Homo sapiens: one gene and its partner. The protein of the gene in region 1 purifies or fractionates together with the protein of each later gene. This does not show direct contact. Each region holds a gene or a part of one and is shown in the gene's direction. Other genes may lie near its edges. The genes, in order: AMMECR1 and ZNF507.

Region 1 (3,827 bases):
CTACCTTTTTAAGGGCATCACCACAAGCTTGTTTTACATTAAAAAGTTACAGTGGTCTCTGGGCTAGTATATAAAGAGACTGCAATAATGCACTACAGTGAAGTGATTTGAAATCTTTATTCTTAAATTTAGTAGAGCTGTGTGAAGACAATGGTGTAGATGGACAGTGAAGGTCTGCTACTACCCCACTCTAAGTCATAATGCATTTTTAAAGAAATGCTGTCTACACTGGGTGATGATGTAGGATCTGGTTGTTTTCATTATTAATTTTCAATCTTACCTGACTGTGTTTGCTTGCCTACGTATAATTTAATGTTTTAAACGGAGTAGACAGTTTGGGAGGGGATCAGCACCAAAAATTTTGGAACTTAATCAGAAGTGGTGAGTGTACCTGCAAAACAGGATGGTTGTTTGCTATCTCTTTGAAGTCAGTCACCTTTGTCTCTAGTTCTTTATTGGCATGAGCTACAATTTGGGAGTGGGGCAGGATTTTTGCCATCAACCGTCTTATTCTACAGACAGCTTCAGAATAGTTGTTCCAGTTTTCCAAACATAGTATCATAGCCTAGTGCATGTTGGGCACATGCAAATCAATATTTTCCCTCTCCGTGGCCATCATAATGGCCTTCAAATCCAAAGTCAAAGCTTTGGAAAGAGAAAACTTATACGTCCTTCTAAAAACAAAGGGAAAGGAAGAACTGCATTCTCTTGAAAGTTAAATTATAACCTTTTCTTTCTGATTCTATGAAGAAGACTGTACTAATAAAACTGCCAATTTCTTTCAGGTGGGTGTACATGGCATTAGAATAGAATTCATCAATGAAAAAGGATCAAAACGCACCGCCACCTACCTACCGGAGGTTGCAAAGGAGCAAGGTCATTGTTGTACTTTATTTCATATGATCTGGTGAAGAATTTAAACAAATATACAAACTGAAATGCGTTATCTGACCTTGCAGTTATGTCTAATAATTGAAGTGTCAAATTATAAGAAGTGACTCTTCCATCACTGCCACTGCAATGTCTGTATCAAGTCGGTGAAGTACTCACAGAAGTTGAATCCCTGCATTGAAGTTTGATGGCATAAACCCATAAGTGTATATTTTTTAAAAAGCAGAATTTATATTAGTTGGTTTTCATTTTAGGCAACAATTTGCTACCGATTTGAAATGCATTTTTCCCATATTCCATTGTGGCATAAACAAGCCTTTTGTTTGACAATCAGCCACATAGTTCTTTGTCATTTTAAGTATCAAATGTTTCATTCTTAGGTGGTTGCCATTACTCATCCTGCTGATACTAAGATTCTAGGTTTCCCACTAAGATCAGAGGATTGCGAAAACATGAAGTGTTAGTGTTTTATATGCTTGGTCTACACTTCCTAATCAGAATTTTCCTGTTTCACACATAGAGCATAGACCTGTATGAACCAACATTGTAACACAAAGTAACTTTTCACTCTGTAGTATTTTATCCTTTCTTAGCAACTACTAAATTCTGGTTTCATGTTGGTCGAAATGAATCTTTTATCTTGGGGAGCTTTTCTTCTCATCAGAAAGCATTTGTAATTTGGTTTTCCCGTGTTTGTCTTATAAATGTGAGATACATAATAGCAAAATTAATGCCATTAAATCCCCAGATCAGAAAGTCTTCAAGGCAGTTACTTGAAGATTTATTTGGGTTGCTTTAGAAAATGTCTTAATCTCCTAGTATCATTAACTTTGTAAAGCATACATAAAAGATAGAGGGCCTCAGATACTAGTATACCATCCATGTCAGAACTAATCAAAATACCCTTGAATACTGCACACAAACTTGAATGATTACAGAATTACAGAAGATACCATAAGGAACAACAATTACTGTGAGGTGGTGTGGGAGTCCTAAATATTGACTTGGCAAAATGGCATATAGGCTTTTCACTCCCTTTTAAAGATGTCACTGTTAGAGGAAAGTACAACAGATATGGTTTGTTACAGTCATGACTGAGCAATTTCTGCCAGCCCCTTAGACCCCTTGACTTCGAATGCGAAGATAAAGGAGCCAGTGTTGTTTGGCATTGTGGATAGCTAGAATTTAAGGAGTGTGGTGATGACCCTGCTTTTGTAAAGGATGAAATCTTAGCTTTTCTGTGTGATTGTTTTTAGGACCAAAAGATTTGATGGCATTTGGTGACAGTGATAGCTGACCTCTACAAAGTCATTTTGTATTTAATGAAAGGTGTTTGTTACATGTGCTTGACTGATATTTTATCTGGTCATCTCTCTACAGGATGGGACCATATACAGACCATAGACTCCTTATTGAGGAAAGGAGGATACAAAGCTCCGATTACTAATGAATTCAGGAAAACCATAAAACTGACCAGGTACAGAAGACATTTTCTAGCACAAGGCTAACCTGTACATTTTGATGTGTATGCCTATAACCCTTTGATTTCTTTGGTCTCTCTAACTACACTTCTTTTTTCTGAAACAGAGTGGAAATGAATGGCAGGGTCATACTGAGGGTGGATACAATGGAACTCTGCTTCGTAGTAAAGCCTGTGTGATGTATGAGCCTATCTTTCCCATCTTTAGCTCTGTGTGATTACTCTGGCTTTTGTACGAGCAAGCCCTTGGAGATTTTAGACTACTTTATTGGAGAAAGTACTTGAATTAGCAATTGGCTAGCTTTTGACATTACTGAGCAGAACCCCAGGATTCTGATAAACAGTCCTCAAATTCGAATTTAATCTCAGAATTTTGGCAGTGATAGAAGTCTACCAAGAAAACTTGTTAGCTTGCTGAAAAACACAATTGAGCTAAACTCAAATGCTAAATAAATTTCAGCATGAAAAAATAGGGATGCTTATTTAAAAAGGAAAATACCGTACATTTTAGGAAAATGGGCTGCTGGTTCCATTTATTTCAATTCCATAAAACTACATTGAATGCTTATAGTCTAAAAATGGCCTATTCTCAGCTCTGAGGAGTTACAAATTCAGAAATACCTCCATCTCTGCTCTCCCTGAGTTCACAGTGGAGGAGAATAGAAGGGGCATGGACAAAATTATTAATCTAAGGCAGAATATGATGGATAATATGAGATCCATTCCCATAAAGTAGGGAAAGAGGAATTCTAAGAGGGTGGGAGGGGGATAACAGATAGTTTCAAAGAGGTCAGCTGGGGGCTGGGTTTGAAGAATGGATAGAATATTTGACAGGTAAAAAGGGATTTTTTTTTGACAGGAGGAAAGTGATTCCCTTAAGGAAGACCTTGTGAGTCAAGGGTGGTGAAGTACAAAGCAAGTTCTGAGAATATGAAATAGTCTGATTGGGCTGGTCTTTTAGTGTAATAGAGAAGCTGATCATTAGAGGAAAATATGGCCCAGAAGGTAGGTTGGGCAGACCATTGAGGGTCCTGAGTTCCAGAGTAATTAGTTTGGACCTGGTTCTATAGGCAATTGGTAGCTATTGAAGGATTTTAATCAGATGGGCTTGGGGAGGTATAAGAATGGAATTGGAAACAGGAAAATGAGCCAGGAAGCGTTGGTATTATCTAAGAATCTGTGGCAGCAGTCCAAAAGAGGTGCAACAGGGGCCTTAACTAGAGCTGTGGCAGTGAGATGGGAAGAAAGGTTGGGATCGATATGAAAATAATGTGGAAGAAATGAAAGGACTGGGTCATCATTTAGAAATAAAGAAGAAAGTCAAGGCGTTAATCTAGATAAAAGGGACCAAGGTAATCCCTTTAATCAAAGTAGGGACCACAAGAGGAGTGTGTTAAGTTTATGCATCGATTTTGGATTTGAGGTGCTTCTTAGGATATCTATATAGAAATATCTA
Region 2 (3,827 bases), on another chromosome or scaffold:
CAATTTTTTCCTTCTCTGATGTCCCTTACCCTTTCAGGGAAAAAAAAAAAAACCATATATGTGGATATGAGTAATAGTTGACCACTAATATGACCTCTAAAAAAAAACCACAGCATAGTTTGTGGTTTATCTTCAGGAAGATAAAGGAAGTAAAAGTAGGAACTAGATTATTGCTTTTATTTAATTTCATTTATATAGTACTTTCCCAAATTCAATATGCCCTGTACAAACTACATGACTATAGTTTCACAATTTCAAAGATTTGGGGAGAAAAAAAACAAATTTGTGATTTTAGTAATAAAACTGCAGCTATATTTGGTATAAGAAATACTCTCAAGAATTGTATCAGTCATTGGCTTTACAGAGTGATGTTTCACAGTAACTGGAGGGGTTTCACATGCCTTGAGAATGGCTGTGCTCCTTTAATCAAGGAATAGGAGTCTTTTTTTTTTTTTCTTGGCATTGTGCAAAAGGGAGGGAGTACTTTTGGTCCTGCTGGATGCTGAAGGCAAAGAAAGTGAAGAAAAATGGAGAAAAAGATCATCATTTCCGAAGAAATAAGTGATAGAGGGGAGTATCTTCATCATTAGTCTTGATAGAAGATTGCATTGTAAAGAGAAATTCTAACCAATTTAAATCTATACTGGGGATCGCCGGGTGTGTGGACATGGAGCTTCCAGCTTAGAAAATACTTAGATGAGATTACAGACACTAACATTCTCTTATATTTTCCAAATTACATGCCTGTAATTATCCTGTAACCTGGTATTTTTCTGTTTTACATTATCCTTTTTAGATATGGAAGAAAGTAGCAGTGTTGCCATGTTGGTGCCAGATATTGGGGAACAGGAAGCTATACTGACTGCTGAAAGTATCATCAGTCCTTCATTGGAAATTGATGAACAAAGAAAAACTAAACCAGATCCATTAATCCATGTTATCCAGAAGTTAAGCAAGATAGTGGAAAATGAAAAGTCACAAAAATGTCTTTTAATTGGGAAGAAACGCCCACGTTCAAGTGCTGCAACACACTCTCTTGAAACCCAAGAACTTTGTGAGATTCCGGCTAAAGTAATCCAGTCACCTGCTGCTGATACTAGAAGGGCTGAGATGTCACAAACAAATTTTACCCCTGACACTCTTGCCCAGAATGAAGGGAAGGCTATGTCTTATCAGTGTAGCCTTTGTAAGTTTCTATCATCATCCTTTTCCGTGTTAAAAGATCATATTAAGCAACATGGTCAGCAAAATGAAGTGATACTGATGTGCTCAGAGTGCCATATTACATCTAGAAGCCAGGAGGAACTTGAAGCCCACGTGGTGAATGACCATGACAATGATGCCAATATCCACACCCAATCCAAAGCCCAACAGTGCGTAAGCCCCTCCAGCTCTTTGTGTCGGAAAACCACAGAAAGAAATGAAACCATTCCAGATATCCCAGTAAGTGTGGACAATCTACAGACTCATACTGTCCAAACTGCATCTGTGGCAGAAATGGGTAGGAGGAAATGGTATGCATACGAACAGTACGGCATGTATCGATGCTTGTTTTGTAGTTATACTTGTGGCCAGCAGAGAATGTTGAAAACACACGCTTGGAAACATGCTGGGGAGGTTGATTGCTCCTATCCAATCTTTGAAAATGAAAATGAACCCCTAGGCCTGCTGGATTCTTCAGCAGCTGCTGCGCCTGGTGGGGTCGATGCAGTCGTCATTGCTATTGGAGAGAGTGAACTGAGTATCCACAATGGGCCATCAGTGCAAGTGCAGATTTGCAGCTCAGAACAGTTATCATCTTCATCTCCTTTAGAACAGAGTGCAGAAAGAGGAGTACACCTAAGTCAGTCAGTTACCCTGGACCCCAATGAGGAAGAAATGCTAGAAGTGATTTCTGATGCAGAGGAGAATCTGATTCCTGATAGCCTGCTTACATCAGCACAGAAAATCATCAGCAGCAGCCCCAATAAAAAAGGGCATGTTAACGTGATAGTGGAGCGATTGCCAAGTGCTGAAGAAACCCTTTCACAGAAGCGCTTCCTCATGAACACTGAAATGGAAGAAGGGAAGGACCTGAGCCTGACAGAAGCTCAGATTGGGCGCGAAGGAATGGATGATGTTTATCGTGCTGATAAATGTACTGTTGATATTGGGGGATTGATCATAGGCTGGAGCAGTTCAGAGAAAAAAGACGAGTTAATGAATAAAGGCCTGGCTACTGATGAGAATGCCCCACCAGGCCGGAGAAGGACAAATTCTGAGTCTCTTCGATTACACTCATTAGCTGCAGAAGCCCTTGTCACAATGCCTATAAGAGCTGCAGAGTTGACAAGAGCCAACCTGGGGCACTATGGAGATATAAACCTTTTAGATCCAGATACTAGTCAAAGGCAAGTAGATAGTACATTGGCAGCGTACTCAAAAATGATGTCGCCACTTAAAAACTCTTCAGATGGATTAACTAGTCTTAACCAAAGCAACTCCACCTTGGTAGCACTCCCAGAGGGTAGGCAGGAATTGTCAGATGGGCAGGTTAAGACAGGCATCAGCATGTCCTTACTCACCGTCATTGAAAAATTGAGAGAAAGGACAGACCAAAACGCTTCAGACGATGACATTTTGAAAGAGTTGCAGGACAACGCCCAGTGCCAACCCAACAGCGATACAAGTTTGTCCGGAAACAATGTGGTGGAATACATCCCGAATGCTGAACGACCCTACCGTTGCCGCCTGTGTCACTACACAAGTGGCAACAAGGGCTACATCAAGCAGCACTTACGAGTCCATCGACAGAGACAGCCTTATCAGTGTCCTATCTGCGAGCACATAGCGGACAACAGCAAAGATTTGGAGAGTCACATGATCCACCACTGTAAGACAAGAATATACCAGTGCAAGCAGTGTGAAGAATCCTTCCATTATAAGGTAAGCATTGGTTCAGGAAGTCTTTCAGAGGACCTTCGCATCTTAGAGTGAGAAGGGAACTTTGTAGATCTAATCCAATCACCTCATTTTATAGATAAGGAAACTGGGTCCCAGAAAAGTTTGATAAGTTGCCCAAGGGGATCCCAACTTACCAGTATTAAAGTTGGGACTGTTCAGAATTTCTGCTGTAGAATCCTTTTCCCTGCCTGCTGCCTCCTTGACAGCCTCTGTGTTTTAGTGTGTATAGTTTAAAGTGTTGATTTTCTGTTGCAAGAGAATTGTAGGGAGTGTATAGTGGATTGACATACGTTTGACTTAACGTATTGACATACGTTTGACTTAAACAAATTTAACCGTACATCATCACAACAAAAAAATACATATTTTTCATCTTATATGGCCCCAGAATGCCAGGCATTCAGTTCAGCTTCTACATAACCAACAGTGATGTGTATCATTGCAGAAGGAAAAATGGGCTATGGCGGACCTATTAAAAGGTACTGTCATGGAAATAGAGCCATGTGTGTCATGTTTTATGGGCAGGGTAAAGAACTTTCAAGAGTTATTTTGACTGTCTGATTTTTATCTTAAGTGCTGACCTTATCAAAACCAATATCCTGTATGAAGTGCTATTCTTTTATAAAGGAAACGTTGAATCATTGGTTTAGAACTTTTCTTCAGTGGGCCAGGTGACTCCTTGAAAATGTATTACAAATGTTATCCTAAGGGCTAACTAGGAGGTAGACTTTTTCCCTCAGATTACCGAGAGCTGGGGTCTAGCTGTGGTAAAAAGGTCACAGGAGGGAGGCCGAGGCGGGCAGATCATGAGGTCAGGAGATTGAGACCATCCTGGCTAACACTGTGAAACCCTGTCTGCTAAAAATACAAAAACTTAGCTGGGT

What was found.
Region 2: the proteins of AMMECR1 (region 1) and ZNF507 purify together in Homo sapiens (affinity purification with mass spectrometry; one large-scale study listed by BioGRID and IntAct). This does not show direct contact.

What each region holds. Positions count from the first base shown.
Region 1 is NC_000023.11:110,199,495-110,203,321, reverse strand, and holds part of AMMECR1 (nuclear protein AMMECR1), read left to right. Parts: intron 1-785; coding exon 786-876; intron 877-2,271; coding exon 2,272-2,368; intron 2,369-3,827.
Region 2 is NC_000019.10:32,352,033-32,355,859, forward strand, and holds part of ZNF507 (zinc finger protein 507), read left to right. Parts: intron 1-796; 5' UTR 797-798; coding exon 799-2,925; intron 2,926-3,827. UniProt on the Homo sapiens protein: May be involved in transcriptional regulation.